4 separate regions of the Homo sapiens genome follow, and all the other regions are linked to region 1. The links come from fine-mapping of genetic effects on gene expression. A gene starts in region 1. Each other region holds a variant in brackets. All regions are shown on one strand. Distances are between the middles of the regions.

Region 1 (4,168 bases):
CCAGGAAGTAAGTGAGCGTCCCCTGTAGGACACCGCTGAAAAATGAAAAGTTACAGTGTAGGCAACCAGGCCAGGAACAAAACTGATTCTTACTTTTCTCTACTCTGGAAGCAGCCTGATGGGGACCTTCATCCCTGAGACCCCAAGACCAGAAGTCCAGGGTTGTCATTCTTATGGTTCTCCAGTGGGCTTAGGTTTACCTTTTCTCTCTTCTTTCCCCCTTTCACAGTGCCCTTCACCTAAACCCTGGCTACATTATTCTCACAAACAGGAGTCTCCCACATTGGGCACTGGCAAAAATGGTTTGGCATGCCTGGTGAGTGGTGGGGAGAGGTGATATTAAATGGCCCTCTCTATTCAGGGACTGTCACTACAGATAGCGTTCTTTGTCCTTAGATTAGCATCTTGGCAATGACATAAACCGGGATCTCTGCTTAAGGTTAATAATCCAAACTGCTCTTTTACTTTGTTAAATATTTAAGGCTTGGAGTCATTCTTTACAATTGAGCTTTAAAGAGGAGAAATGTAAATCTGGAGTTTTTAATAATGTGGATGTGCTCTCAAGCCTAGAAAGGAAGGAAGAAGGAAGGAAAGGAGGGAGGAAGAGGAAGGAGGGAGGCAAAGAGGGAATGAAAGGTAGCATTTAGGCTAGCCAAGAGACATGCTCCCTGGAAGAACTCAGAGGCCTCTGTGCTGTGCCTTTCCCAACCAGGCATCTGAGATTAACAGTGTGATACTCAGCCTGTGGATTTCCACTCTAAAATCCCGCGCCACCCCCCAACACAGCTTGGCTCAACTATTTGCAAATCACTTCTGATTCAATTTTGTTTTGGTTATCTCAGTGTAAATAACAGTTAAGTGGGAGTTACAGATTTTTCAAACACTAAAAGTGATAAAGCTAATGGGCAAGTCCAGATAAGGAGGGAAACCACCCAGAAGAATCCACAAGTACAAGCCAAGAAGAAAATGGGTAGTCAGGTGTGTGTTTCTCGTCACCGAAACTGTATTTTTCTTAATCTACAGAAAATTTTACTTTCTTAATTTAAAAAAAATCTTAATCTGTAAATATTTTTCTGAATTTTCTTATTTTTCATATACCTCTTTTGTGGCAGAAAAGGTGTACATGTGCAGGGTGTAATTTAGGCTGTTTCTGTTGCAGTCTTTATGATAATGTAGTAATAGGTGTCTGGTGAAGCAAGACAGTTTGGAATCCACAAAGCCATCCTCAGAAACAAAGATACAAGTGTTTCCCCAACTGTTAGCTTGCAGTTCCCTCTAAACAGTTTTCACGCCTCCATTTAAAAATAGTTGGCATAATGATGTTTTCTTTCTCTAGGCTTTGTGACCACGTTTCCATGGGGGAAAATGTGAATAGACGTAGTTACAGTAGCATTTGGATGAGACGCCTTCAAGCACCTATACTTTTTCGGGGGAACTTGATGGAATCCAATTTAATTACCTGAAGAAATTATTTGCTGAAGAAAGTCTTTCCTCTTTTTAGGGTAGTTACAGTTAAAGGCGCAGGGGTAACGAAATCCTAACCCAGAGAGGAGCAGAGCATGTTTGGGACATAACAAAGGATCTGAGTAGTAAACGCAGCGAGTGTTTGGGGTTTTATTCAGACCGGGCTGACGGTGTGTGTCGCCGCCACGCACCGCTGCCTGTTCGAACGCATGGCTGAGCTGCCGACCGGCTCGCTACCCCAAACACCGTACGCCACCCAACTCCTCTTGTAACGCCATCGCGCGTGGCATTGTGTTGGGTTCTGCGTGTGTGGCATCGGAGTCGTGGAATTTAGGGGGAACAAGGCTTTTCCCCCCGTCCCCCCGGGGTCTCCCTTGGGTGGGGGCGACACGGCCAAGGCGGCGCGCCCTGGGGGTGCCCGGGGGCGCTTCTTCCCCAGGGCGTTACGCACCGGCGGCCCGGCGCGGAGGTGCGCGGGGGCGATCGGGAGATGCGGGGCGGGCGAGGGGTGGTGGGATGGGCGCCGCCTTAACTTCGATCCTGCGGCGGCCCGAGAGAAGCCGTCGCCGCCCCGCCCGAGCTGGGTGCCGCGGCACTCTGCTCTGCGCCGCGCGTCTCCGCGGCTGCCTCTTTAATCAGGAACACAGAAGGGGCGGGCCCTGAGCCGGCGCGTAATCGGATAGCTCTGCCGCGGCTCTGACATCCACATGCTGCTCGGCCTGAAAAGGCAGTGGGGAGCCGGAGGGGAGGCAGAGATCGCGAGCGAGGCACCAGCCTGCAGCCGGCCCCCAGCACATCCTCAGCCGCACAGACACTCGGCGAGGTGGAGGTGAGGGCGGGCGCCAGCGAACTCGGAGAGGGGCTCGCTCACTCCCAGGCGATCCCAGCCGCCACCGCCGCCGCACCAGCAGCAGCAACAGCAGCAGCAGCTTCCTTCCTCAGACTCCCCTCGAGAGGCTGGCCAAGCGGGTGTAGCCGTTGGGGGAGGCTCCCGCCGGGGGAACCCGGCGAGGACAAGAGCAGGGCGGCCGCCTTCCACTCGGGCTGTCCGGCGGCGGCTGCCTCCGCCCGTGTGTCCGTCAAGGGTGCCGCGGGATGTGTGTCAGTTTACGCCTCTGAGATCACACAGCTGCCTGGGGGCCGTGTGATGCCCAAGGCAAGTCTTGGTTTTAATTATTATTATTATCATTATTGTTACGCTTGGCTTTCGGGAAATACTCGTGATATTTGTAGGATAAAGGAAATGACACTTTGAGGAACTGGAGAGAACATATATGCGTTTTGTTTTTAAGAGGAAAACCGTGTTCTCTTCCCGGCTTGTTCCCTCTTTGCTGATTTCAGGAGCTACTCTCCTCCTGGTGAGGTGGAAATTCCAGCAAGAATAGAGGTGAAGACAAGCCACCAGGACTCAGGAGGGAAACGCTGACCATTAGAAACCTCTGCATAAGACGTTGTAAGGAGGAAAATAAAAGAGAGAAAAACACAAAGATTTAAACAAGAAACCTACGAACCCAGCTCTGGAAAGAGCCACCTTCTCCAAAATGGATATGTTTCCTCTCACCTGGGTTTTCTTAGCCCTCTACTTTTCAAGACACCAAGTGAGAGGCCAACCAGGTAAGCCACTGAAAGTTTTTCTATTTATTGCAACATGGTTTCCCCTTTAAAAGTGACCGCTAAAGCAGGAAGGCCACGCAGAACGGCACAGAAGAAGGCTCCCTCAGTACTCAATAATTTAAAGAGAGATCCCAGCCGGCCCTTCCTACACCACCACGGCTGCTAAAACCCAACTTTCCTCTCCTGCTAGGAGTGTGTGTGTGTGTGTGTGTGTGTGTGTGTGAGTGTGTTTTGAAACAGAATTTGGCGGTGTTCATATGTCACATATGGACTGAATCAAAGGTTTAAAAATACTACAAAGCCTTTGCATTACAGTTTTTGGGAATTTTTTTTCCCTGTCTTGAAGCAGAACACATCTCCCTTGAGTTTCTCCAACTAGCCAGTGAAATATAAATCATTTGCATTCCCTCCACTTAGCTACATTGAGCAATGTTAACTGAAGGGCTTGGGAAAGACAAGAGTTTAGTTTTGGTTTTCAGATGCTGTAGATTCTTTGGAGAATGACTGGTTATGCTTCAGAATCATAAGGCTCAGGCTGGTGGAGCAAGTTGGCTTGTGGCTGAGATAGGGGCTTGGGGTTGGGTGCTGCTGGCAACCAAGACGGTTGGTCTCTTCTCTCTTCATCCATGTGTTGTCTGGGAAAGTAAATCGTACGTTCTTTTAGAAATTATTATTAGCTAAAACAAATTGCAGGCCCTCGAAGGTCTCTCACTCTTGTGAAGTGGTTAGAAACTTTTGAGTGGAATTTGTTCTCAACCACTGCCAAAAAGGGTGTGTGGACAGGCTGCTGTGGAGATAAGCATTTCGAGGCCCAGAACAGTCTGGGGACCGCATTTGTGGGGAGCGGCAAGGGGTATGCTCTGGAAAGGGGAATCCATGGGGAATGCAGTGGGGTTTGTGCTTCCTTCTCGGACCACTCTCTAGAGTGAGCCTCCCTACCCCTCTGAGAACAGTGTCTGGAATCTAACAACAAAACTCTTAGCAGCTGCTACAGGTGATTGGAGATGGAGAAACCATCTATGGAGGAAATGGGTGAAAGAAAGGCGAAAAAGCCTTCCTGAAGTGCCCTCACCCAAGGCACTTGCAAGGC
Region 2 (4,168 bases), 190 kb after region 1:
CAAACTCCTGGCCTCAAGCTATTCTCCCAACTTGGCCTCTGAAATTGCTGAGATTACAGGCATGAGTGACCATGTCCTGCTAATTTTTAAAAAAAAATTTTTGTAGAGATGAGTTTTGACTAAGTTGCCCAGGCTGGTCTCAAACTTCTGGCCTGAAGCTATCCTCCCATCTTGGCCTCCCAAATTGCTGAGATTACAAGCGTGAGTGACCACTCCTGTGAGATTTTTAAGTAGGCACGTTTGCTCTAAACAAAATATGATTCCTTCATAAGGAAGAAGACAGAATAGATGTTGAATCAGTAACTGCAATGTTTGATGTTGATTGAAATGAAAAGACTGGGCTTATTTTTATTCATAAAAATAAATAGGGTTTTTAAGAGATGTGTTTCAGCATGTCTATCCACAGACAAAGATATGACTTAATTTTATTTATGTAAAATTCTGCTGAGAAACTCATGCTCATCTAGCCAGTGGAAGTATCCAATTAGGGGGTGCAGGGCCTTTCTTTTGAAATAAATCACTCAGTTGTCAGAAATTAGCACAGCCCCTCATCATTTGGGTTCCTTCATGAATCATCAGGCCACATCCTTTTCCATTTATGTGACTGTGTTGTGTTGCAAATTAAGTTTTAAAAGACATTTTTTTTCTCAAAGAAAATGTAAAGAATAGAGTACCCCCCACAACCACCACCCGGGATAATGAACTATAGCTACTGTCATTCCAGGAGGGCTTAATGACAGTGTTCGATGTGTGTGTGGACAGCCGAGGCTTCCCCCAAAGTTGTCTCTGTGAATGGGCTTCAAGATGTTTTGACTATTATCTGTTACAAAGAAACTTACTATTAATTGCATATTGTCATAGCTGTTAGTCCAACATAACTGTTAGCCCAACAAAGCATTCTCTCCTCAGGAGAAGGGGATGGGGACACAGCCTAATTTTCTTCCACTGGGTAAGCGGTTTCTCTAAGTTCCTCGCTGCTCCATTCCTTAAGTTTTCTTGGAGAAAATCAAGTTGAGGAAGGACTCATTCTTCCCTGTGGATGACTTCAGCTCTCTTCCAGGCAGGAGTGAGGATGGCCCTCCATCATCCCAGGATCCACCTGTGTCTGGGAAACAGCAGGAGCGGCGTTTCTCAATGAGCTGTACAGAGGACACCAGGGACACAGGCATTAGGGCTACACATGCTTCGGGTTGCTCCGATGGTGGTGGCGACTGCTTCTTGGCCTCTCCCCCATACTCCCTTCCACCTCCCATGTGACCTGATGCTGGAGAAAGTGTGGTTTAGCGGGAGGCTGATGGGGAAGTCCTGTGGGTAATGAGTCAGAAAGAGGAGGAGCAAAAGTAAGACAGAAATGCTTACAATGTTTAACTGGAGGGAATTAACTGTGATATAACTCCAAGAAGAAAGTAACAACATCATTATTGCGCAAGATTCAGGAGTTTGATTCCATGTTGGACAAATGCAGGGAGATGAACTGATTGTACCCCTGGTCCATTCCCTACATCTCCAAAGACTGATCTTAAAACACGGATCCACTCACATCCTTCTCCTTCTTATTTATTTCCAAAGGCTCCCATTGCCTGCTAGATAAAGCCCATACCTCTCAGCCTGGCATACAAGTTCTCATACAGATGGACCAGACCTTGTCTCCTAGCATTGCTTCCACACCCCCAGCCCTCCCACAGCCACACCGAGGCCACAGTGAACTGTCACTGTCCCCAGGCTCAGTGCACTTGCATGCCTTCACACTCTGGCTCCTGTTGCTCCCTTTTCCTAGATGCCTTCTCTTCTTTCTTACCTAATAAACTCCTGTTCATCCTTCAGCACTCAAATTCAATGTCATTTCCTTTGTAATGCCTGTCCCAAGCCAGGATTCATCTTACCTCCTCTGGGCTCTCTGCACTTGGCTCTGACCTCAACCACAGCACCAATCATATTGCATCATCATATTTCTAAGTCCTCTATTAGGTTTTACATAATCTCCTT[C/T]TCACCAGGAATTGTGTCTTATTGACTGGGATAGTCCCAGTCAATGTAACCAGTACAGGTAGAATGAAAAGTAGAGTGTGCTGGGGGATGGGAGGAGGAAAGGATGGATGGATGGATGGATGGATGGATGGATGGATGGATGGATGGATGGATGGAAGGACAGAGGCATGGAAGGATAATTTGTATTATATTAATATTAGGTATCTTGGACTATTAAAGAGGATCTACATGCCTATGAACCGAAAGAAGTCTGTAAACAAAGAATCAAATCATTGAACTGAGACTCAAGTGATCCCAGTCTTAGTTGCTTTACAGGTCCCAGTGTCCCAATCTAATAACTGAGTAATACAGCTCCTGCTCTAATGTTCTGTGAGCCAGTGATAGTCTAAATCATTGCCATCCAATAGCACCTTCTGCAGGAATGGAAATGTTCTAAAATTTATTCTGTCCAATAGGGTAGCCATTAGCCACATGTCACTATGTGCACTTAAAATGTGACTAGTGCAACTGAAGAACTACATTTGTGATTTTATTCAACCTCAATTAATTTTAATTGAATATTTAAATAGCCACATGAGGCCAGTGGCTACTATATTGAACAGCACAGGTATAAACCACTATGCTCAAAGCCTGTGTTATACTTCAGTGTACTGCTACTTAACACCATCAAAGACATTGCTATATAGGCTCAAACTGCACAGATTCTTCTTGATGTGTTGATAAAGACACCTATGTTGGATGAAGTGAGTGGTGTTCTACCCTCTCTCATTTCTCAGCTAAACATAACTCTTCCACTGACTTTGGCCCAGCCTATCACATGTACCTGGCCTGGATCCAGACAGTTAGAATTATGAGAATCAGCTCAGAGATGTCCAACCAAGAGATCAAAATTTCCTGATGAATCTCAAAATATGACTTGATATAGCTCTAATTTCCTTTGAGTCCTGTTCTTTAAAGTTGTCACCCCATTGAGGGCAAAAATGGTATCCTGTTCATCACATTTCTTGTAACATCTAGAGTCATACCTGGCACTTAGCAAGTGATCATTAACATTTGCTGAATTAATTTACCAGGATTGCAAATGAGGAGAAGCATTCTAGTGATGGGCTTGGATTCTCATGACCAACGATGGTACTCCCGAAAGCCTATCTACCCATCAAAGACGGTCAACCATAAAACCTACTCAACGTTCAACAACAGACAAGTCTTAAACACCTTCTATGTGTCTAATCCCAGGCATTTGACCATTTGCTCAGGACCTGAGATACAGAATACATAAGACAAAGTCCCACCCTTCAAAGAACTCAGTTTAGTAGAACTGAGAGACACACAATTAATTCTAATTTTAGTAGCCACTTACTTCAATAGACATGCAGGTAAGGAGCCACATAAGAACTCTTCATTTAATACAGTTTAAGGATCTCTGGATTGGACATTTTGGTGGACACTGAATTGCACCATGCAGATTCCCCTTTAATCAAAGACTTGCTGGCCCAGTTGCTAGGAATGCTGTGGGCAGGCAGCCTCCAAACCTGTCCTTCAGAGAGCCTTCATCCAGTTACTGGACAGTGTAGGAGTATACAGACCCAGCCATCTCGTCCCCATTCAGATAACTCTGAAGTCATTTTAGCTCCCAGAATTGACCTGACTTGAGCCGAGGCTGTCCTTGGGCCTGCAGCAGCAGCTCAATTTCTCCCTCTGTGCCCTTCTGCTTCCTTCCTTTTCCTTTCTGGGGACCATCATTAATAAACCTCCTACATGCTAAACTCCACGCTCAACTCCCTCTGGAGTCAGCTTCCCAAGGAGCCCAACCTGCAGCAATCAGTACCACCAATGTAAGAGAAAACTTGAGAAGAGATAGAATTTGGGACTGTATCACTTCCCATCTGGCTGGCAATGAGACTCCAGCACTCACTTGTGGACAGTGGAACACTGAGCCCCTGGCACAATTCAGTGGTCCGATCTAGTTGTAAAATCAGGTGCTGGCGGATTATTGGGATATACACCAGCAGAGGGGGATGCATTTGCTATTGCAATGTATCAGATATCTGACACAAGATGGCCATGTCTTCATACTCCTACATTGTCCAGGAACTGTATGAAGACTCTCTGAAGAACTGGCTTTGGAGGCTGCCTGTCAACAGCATTCCTAGCAGCTAGCGCAGGCAGCAAGTCTTTCACT
Region 3 (4,168 bases), 30 kb after region 1:
TGAGCCTCGATGTCTGCATCTGCAAATGGATGGTAATTGTAACAGGGCCTGGTTTGGATGAAATGAGGATTAAATGAAATAATATCTGAATCAATGGCCTGGCCCATAGTAAATGCTCAATAAAATGTGAACAGTTTGCAGATATACCAGCTTTTTAGTAAATGGGTGGTACAGATGCAAGGCAGAAATTCAAGGAAATGAAATTTACTTTAAAAAGTCTGACCTGACAGTGAGCTGACTTCTCCATAAAGGCTAGGTGACTGTACTGAGCCTAAGGAGCAGGTGGCCTGGCTTCAGGCCTGAACCGACCAGAGACCTCAGCATTGTGCAGATCTGCCTTGCAGCCTTTTTAGACATCGTGCAGCTTCTTTGTTGGGAAGTTGTATGTGACAGTGCTGTTTTTTTTCCTCCTAATTTCCTCACAGGTTTTAATGTAAGGATTAATAAGACAGTGTTTGTAGATGTCTTTGAGCCTCCTGGAAGAAAGGCACTCCAGGAGGTGATAAATTCTCTGGCCTGGATAATCTACTCATGAAATATGGAACTTTGAAAGTGTGAGAAAAATCTCAAATCACTTTGACAGCATTTTAATTATAGTTGATTTGTTTGCCGCTAATAGTGAAAATGCTGTCAGCATGATTTGAGATGTTTCTTCCACTCAAAATGTTATATTTCATGTTTTTGAGTCACAAGGCAACATTTTGGTTTTCAGATACAACCAGAATAGCTCAGTAAATGTGTTGGGGCACAAAGACAGAGAGTATAAAATGGATCAAACTCCACGGAAAGCATCATCGTAGCACGCATTCTTCTCAACATGGAACACCAGCCTGAAGTCCCTTATTCATTTACATTTATTTACTCAACAAAAAGTGAATGAGACCTCCTACATGCCAGGCACCAGGGAAGTGTCGTAAATTCAGCAGTGAAGAGGCAAGGTCCTTGCCTTCATGGTGCTTATTGTCTGGTGCAGGAGACAGATCATAAACAAATAGGTATATTGACAAGACCTTTCCAGATTATAATCATAGCTATGAAAGAAGTAAGATGATGGTGAGATAGAGAATAAGGGCATGCCATCTGAAATAGGGTGGTGACAGCAGGCTTCTCTGTGGAGGTAACATTTGTCCTTAAGCCTGAAGGATGAGCAACAACCAGCCCTGGAAAGCACCAATGAGGAGTACTGCAGGCAGAGGAAAGAGCGCTTGCAAAGGCCCTGGGGTTGGAAAGAGCTCACCATATACAAAATGTCTTCAACATCTTATGATCTTATGATGAGCAGTGTGAAAGGAGGCCTTGCTTGGTTGGCAAAGGTTATGATGTCAGGACTTGGGCAGAGATGTTCTGATACGTAGACCCAAAAGAAGGGGCAGAGTATTCTTCCTCCGAAGACCTAAGTACTCTATCTTCGATACAGAAATCCCCTTCCAAGTGGTTCTGTGTGGCATCCCTAAAGCTGGATTCTGACAAGGGCCAGACATTTCGGTGCCCTGAGAGAAGGACCTAAGCTTGGTGAATCTTCCAGCACAGGCTCCGTTGACTAACCCAGCCTTTGGTGCCCTGCTGGGAAGTGTCAAGCGTGGAGACAGTTATGGAAACTAGAAAGCCCTTTTTCATGTTTGCCTAGTGATGAGAGGAAGAGATGAGATTGTTGCTTTTTCATATCTCTCCCGTGGACTCTTAAAATTAACTTCACTGTCAAAATTTCCCATGGCCCAAATGTAGGTTTGGGGAGAGAAATGTAAGACTTTGAAGTTGAGAAAGAAAGTAGAGAAAGCATTCTCTAGACAAATGCTCACCATGCAGACTTCAGAATCTGTGAGGAGACAAATAAAAAGGCACTCGGGGAACCGTTTTAGAGAGAAAATAAAGAACTGGGAGTAGAGATGGCTACTTCAGCTCAGGAAAAAAATAAATAAAACAATACAAGGTAGTGTTAAAGCTTTGAAAGGAATTTTTCGTTTAGGAGAGATTATGGATAATGAAATGCAAACACTCTAGTTAATATGTCTGTTAGCTGGTTTATGTTGCCTTCTGGAAAACGAGTGATACGTTCTAAGAGGAGCAGCTTTTCAAGTTATCCTACTTGACTATCGTTGGGGTGAGCTCTGAGTCTGTACCCCGGATTCCTTTACCAAACACTGGATATTAGACACTAGATGCAAAGCCGTATTTATTCCAAAGCCAGAAACTTCCTAAGCCTCTGCCTAACTCTTCACAAATGAACCTGACAACACTGAAATTTCTAAGGAGATTTACTCCAGCTGTAGCAAATCCCTCATAATAAAAAATTTCCCCAAATGAGTCAGTCACACAGGAGGTAAATGAGACATTCTGTATGAAGTCAGCATGTCATTTGGAGTGTGCCCTTTATATAAAAGGCCCAGCCAGAAGACCATGTGGTTAAGTGGGGCTTGTCCACAGGGCAGAACCAGAAGACTGGAAGTTGGGGGGATTTCAGCTGCC[G/C]AACTGTAACTCTGTGTCACTTCCCCTCAAGCAAACCTTATAGAAAAATCTAGTTTTTCTAAGAAGTTCAAGTAAGGTTTGTTGATTATTTGCTTCACAAAAGGATTCAGCAGAGGGGTCCTTTAACTAACAAGCTCAGAGAAAAAATTTATAGTATGATTGAATTATATGAAGCTTTTTCAAAAATGCATCCCTTCTCTATATGTGTGTTAGATACATAAGGATGTATTTGTTGCAGGCAGCATTACAAGAAGGGATTTGGGGTGGTCTGTATCCGTTGAGTAAATTGAGGCAAGCTTGTAACAGTGGCATTTGTTGGGCAGCCCTGCTTCATTGCTGATTCTGTTAATCCCCTAAATGACTCCATGGGTGATTAGGCAACCAGATAAAACCCTCTCACTTCTGATGAACAAGCCAGTGGGATGGCAGGGCCTCTCTTTGTCCTTCCTAGAGAAATTGGCAACACAAAGACTGGAACTATCTGGTGAAGCTTTAAAAAAAAAGTTTAAAAAATTATTTATTGAATGTGGGTCATGTCCTTGGCACTGTTCCAGATGTCCCGACCTACTGTGTCTCATTTATTCCTCACTCCAGTTCTGTGACATGGATGATGATGGTGATGATGATGAACTTCCTTCTACATCTGCTAAATCATGACAGCTGGATTCTTTTACAAAGAAGAGAGAAAAAATTACCAATTATCCTACCACCCATGTCTGTCGCCATTGTTCATATTTTAGTAGTCTTTCAGACTTCCTCTGTATGTTTATGTGAGGAAATGTATGTATACCTTTTAAAACATACTTTTAAAAAATCTCCTTTTTAAAAAGTTAACAGTATAGCGTGAACATTTTTCCATAAAAACAAAAAATTCTAGACCTGCAGACTATTGATTGTAGCAGGAGAGTATTCCATTTTATAAATATCCCAGATGGATTCACCCTCCCTCTACGGTTGGGCTTTGAAACCATTTATAAGCAAAATATCCTCCCACTTTTTATATTTTTTCAAAATATATGCACAAAGATGCATATGCATCTTTGCACAATTGTCTGATTATTTTCTTAGGAAAAATTCCTAGCAGTAGGATTGCTGGATTAAAGGCTATGTACATATTAACTTCTGTCACATTTCACCAAAATGCCTTTCAGAATGTTTGAACAGATTTCCATTCCCGCTGATACTACACCTCTGCTCATTTGTTCCATTTCTGAAAACAGGGTCGCTTCTGCTCTGTGGCTCAGCCTCCTTGCCTGTGAAATGGGTGTGAAAATACAACAAATCACAGTTCACATTTACTTAGCACTCACTGAGTGCCAGACTATGGACTAACACTTTAGATAGATTAGATTTTGTCATTTAAGTCCCACATCAACCCTAGGAGAAGACTGTAATATCCCTACTTTACTCTTTTTCTCCCCATTTCTGAGGCTCAGAAAGGTTCAGTAACTTGCCTGAGGTCACCCAGCTAAAAAGTGGCCAAGCTGGGGTGCAAGCCCAGCTCTGTCTGCTTCTGGGATTGGGACTCTTGCGCTCTGGGCCATGCATTTCTTAGTCCAGATGAGTTGTCTGATTAATGAACATGGGTAGCAGAGCCTCTCAACCTTTGTGCACATTGCCAGGGCATCACCATTGCTCACAGGAATGTGTCTGTCCAGCAGTGCTTGCCTTAGTGTGAAAATAGCACGGAGGGGTTTTCTGG
Region 4 (4,168 bases), 610 kb before region 1:
ATTCTCAGCCCTGTTGCTTAGTGAGTGGTCTGCAAAAGGACCCTACTTGCAAGACAGAAGCTATGACATACAACCCCTAAAACTTAAATATGTATCTAAAACAATAAGTATTTTTAATATTGTAAATATAACACTATCGTGCCCCATGAAATTAGCAGTTTTTAATATCAATACTTAATCCACATTAGAATTTCCCCAGTTCTCCAGCTGTTTTTTTAAATCAGGATTTAATCTAAGACTAAACACTGCATCTAGTTGCTATGTCTTTTACATCTCTATAATCTTTGTTCATGACATTGACTTGCAGAAAACCAACCAGTTGTCTCTGAGCAGGTCATTTTGCATGAATTTAATTGCTTCCCTGTAAAGTTGTTTGAATTGTTCCTCTTGTCCCTGTAGGTTCTGTTAGCTGAAAGTCGTACTAAAGCCTTGCTTAAATGTAAGTTAAACATTTTAGCAATACTATATCATAGGTGATATATAGCAATACTTCTTATGTATAAGATCAAAAGATACATAATAAGTTTTGTTTTGTTTTTCGCCATTAGTAACCTAAATTTGATTATTGGGTTAAGGTGGTGACAAACTCATCCATCCATTGCAAGCATCAATATGTTCTACTTGAAACAATAGGTAATCATTTGTGAACTAACTTTGTCACTACGTCCAGTTACTGTCAATATTTTTATAACTAACAATTTTATGCTGAAATACTAATTTCATTAAGTTTTGCAGTGTAACAGTTTTTAACTATTTCATTTCTTCTACATTTGCTCGCACTCTTTTATAATGTAGAGCTTTCCACAGCTTTCTATAACTGGGGCTATTTGATTACCTGGAAATAAAGTGCATACTGTTAATGTAAAAAAAAAAACCACTTAATTTGGGGTTTTAAATGGCCAGTTTTCAAAGTAAATTTGTTTCTTGGAAGTGTCAAATGATGACAGAAGATTTTTCTTTGGCTTCTTTCTTATCACTGTGGACTCAGCCTTTCATAAATACAGTGTGTGCAAATCACCCATGATCTTTCTTTCTGATGTCTCAGCTTTGCTGAGTAGAAGCTCCTTCAGACTAGCTTCTGGGTTCTTGACATGATTGTATTAATTCTTACAAGTTTCCTTCCTTTATGGAACAGCAAGATTTCCCAAGATCACTATATACCTTCATTGCCCCACACTTGCCGCCATTCTTCTCGCCAAAGATCTGTAGAGAATGGTCCTAGAAACCAAACTCCGGTCCTAGGTGTGCATCTTGTTCCTGAGAACAAATTACTTCTGTATCATGTTCTGGCCAGACTTAGGGAAAATATGTGAATATATACACTTAAAATCCAGAGTTGAAATCAATGTCTATAATTGTTTTATCACTGAGTTTAATTTCTTTGATTTTCTAATTGCTTCTCTTTCACCTTGAGAGTCTTGAGTGCTATTAACTTTAATGTAAGTATGGATTTGATTTATTCTACAATGTAAATGTTTTTAAATAACAGCACTGCTGTTAGTACAGACAACAAAAGATGTACCATCAAAGCATTAACATGTAAAGTCATTTGAAATAAGAATCTTTTCACTTTGTAGTGTATCACGTATGTGTGTGTGTATACAGAGATACACACATAGTAATTTTTAAAATAAATTATTGTTATCCAGAATTTCTGTCTTCCTAAACATAACTGCCACTTTTACACACTCTCTCTAATTGTTGGTACTCTCACATTGCTGTCTATAGATCCAAATTTTATCTTAAAAAAAACAAAAAATGCAAAACACTGGTCATTACATTTTAAGCAGATTTAGCCACTTGTTTGAGCAATTTTTGTGCTTGTGTGACTCATGTTTTCTGTGAATTAGCTTTTTTTTAAAAGCTATAAATTATGAGTTCTTATTTGTATTTCTTCTTAAAAATATATGTAGTCTCACATAATAGTAAACATCACACTTTTAATTCATCTTGTTGTAAAGAAATAAGATATAGTTTGACGATGGTATTCCTGTCATTAATAAATCATAGGCATTAAATAATATGATCAAAAATTCCACATTAAAAGACTGCTTACATTCTTATAAACTTGTATTTGGACTTCATAATTAAAATAATTCAGGTCCTTTTTTTTTTTTTTTCTTCTTTGAGACAGAGTTTCATTCTTGTCCCCCAGGCTGGAGTGAGTGCAATGGCGCACTCTTGGCTCACTGCAACTTCTGCCCCCCTGGGTTCAAGCGATTCTCCTGCCTCAGCCTCCCAAGTAGCTGGGATTACAGGCGTGCGCCACCACGCCTGGCTAATTTTTACATTTTTGGTAGAGACGGGGTTTCACCACGTTGGCCAGGCTAGTCTCAAACTCCTGACCTTGGGTGATCTACCCACCGTGGCCTCCCCAAAGCGCAGGGATTA[C/T]AGGCATGACCTACGGCACCCAGCTGAGGATTAAAGTATAGGTGGAGACAATTAAATTTTATTTCATATCAGTGGTTCACAACTATGGTACAGTATAATCTGGATATTTTAAGGTCTAAATAACATTTTCTTGGTAAAACTTATTTTAAATAGAAAAATTGAAAATAATGAGGAAGAAAATAATATCCTTCTCTGTAACTGCATTCATTTACTGTTTAAAAAATAATTTGCACTACTTGCTATGGCCATACTTCTTAGTTTAGTTATACTAATTCTATTTAGTAAAAGCGACGATACCAACTTTTAAAAACCAACATGCAATGAGATAGATTAGAATTAAAATTTTATGTATGAGAGTCAAACCATTAGCTCCTTAAGGATAGAAATGTCCTGTTTTTCTTCAATTTGCTCAGTATATGATATACAGTAACTGCAGAAATTAAATTTCAGAGGGATTAAGTGATTTTCCTAAGTCCTATCTTCATAAATTTTAATATATATCTTTTAAACATTTAAACGGTATCCATGAAATTTAATACAAACATTATTAGCAAAAAGCCAGTTAGTTGAAAATAAAGAACTAAGATTTTGTTTTTTGGTTACTATTCCAATTACCTTTCTATTACCCTAGAGCTGAATAAATGGTTATTTGTGTGAATTAAAGTGGGCCACTTAAAAAATGTAAATGTAAAATAAAGCTATTTTATTCCCCTCTTGTGTAAACAGCAGTTTTCCTGTAAATCAGGGTGTGTTTTAAAAATCACCATCCCTTTGCTTAAAGTTGTGTTATTCTATATAAAGAAGATTGGTTCTGGTGGTGTCCTGCTGTGGTAAATTTTGAAAAGATGTCGAAAAACTTGTCTTATTTGCTTTGAAGTAAGAAACCAAGATAAAACTGAAATAAAATTAAATGGAACTAGACAACATTTCATCTCATGCTATTTTTTCGGGAAAAAAAGTCCAAATGTATATAGTAACCTTGAAAGTAAGTCTGTAGACATTATCAAATCAATCTAAATTGAGTTAGTGTATATGTGGTAGGCAGAAACTGGTAGAAATTAGTTTATCTTCCCCAGACTCTTTCTGTTTTCTTTGTACAAAGTAGGATAAACTTGTTTTTAGACCTGATTATGTTTCTTTGTTGCTTTTTTCCCCCTTTCCCTAAAAGGGCAAGGATTGTCCATATTTTGTTCAATTCACACCAGGCGTTAGAACAGGAAACCATTAAAAAGCCCTAGGCACATGTATGACATCTGTAGCTATTATTGGAAAGATGTGTTGAATATAAAACCTGAAACATTTCCAAATAAGGAATATAAACAATGATCCCCAGTGTTTTGTAGTTTCACTGCTTATAAACAACAAATTGAAGCTGTAGGGCTGATTCTTGTGATATACATACATGTGAACAACCTAGCCCACACATATTCCTCTTTATCTTATTAACAGGATCTCTACAAAATGCACTTCAGTCCCATTAGACAAATGGTAAGGCTGTTGTATGACTAATCTTAGTGGACATTTTAAAAGCTTATTTTAAATATCCATTGCTTCTTTTATTTAAATGTATCTTTTTCTAGTTGGATCCATTCATTCCTAGAGCTTCTCATTTATAAGTTCAGATTGTATTGAGAATATTTGTGTCAAAATGCTTGATTCATATAGCACTTTCTGAAATAATTTTGCTAATCTTCAAATTGTCTATTTGAATAAAAACAAAGACATTAATTACAAAAAACTTTTGAAAAGACTATTGTCTCATTAACTTTTATGCTAA

The links. PIP is the estimated chance that this variant, and not a neighbour inherited with it, causes the effect. A credible set is the group of variants that fine-mapping cannot tell apart.
Region 2: its variant is the best candidate, but not a certain one, in a credible set for the expression of NRP2 in whole blood (TOPMed, PIP 0.80).
Region 3: its variant is the best candidate, but not a certain one, in a credible set for the expression of NRP2 in whole blood (TOPMed, PIP 0.65).
Region 4: its variant is the best candidate, but not a certain one, in a credible set for the expression of NRP2 in T cells (TOPMed, PIP 0.84).

The regions. Positions count from the first base shown.
Region 1 is chr2:205,680,286-205,684,453 of GRCh38, forward strand. It overlaps NRP2 (neuropilin 2), which reads left to right and starts at 2,216. Exons shown (of 17, transcript NM_003872.3): 1 at 2,216-3,078. The coding sequence starts at 3,006. RefSeq lists a silencer at 1,617-1,736.
Region 2 is chr2:205,867,706-205,871,873 of GRCh38, forward strand. No RefSeq gene overlaps it. Among named protein-coding and RNA genes, the nearest start is that of NRP2, 190 kb to the left of the region's middle. The variant C/T (reference allele first, on the strand shown) is at 1,987.
Region 3 is chr2:205,710,338-205,714,505 of GRCh38, forward strand. All of the region lies in intron 2 of NRP2 (neuropilin 2), which reads left to right. Among named protein-coding and RNA genes, the nearest start is that of NRP2, 30 kb to the left of the region's middle. The variant G/C (reference allele first, on the strand shown) is at 2,467.
Region 4 is chr2:205,070,136-205,074,303 of GRCh38, forward strand. All of the region lies in intron 4 of PARD3B (par-3 family cell polarity regulator beta), which reads left to right. Among named protein-coding and RNA genes, the nearest start is that of PARD3B, 530 kb to the left of the region's middle. The variant C/T (reference allele first, on the strand shown) is at 2,392.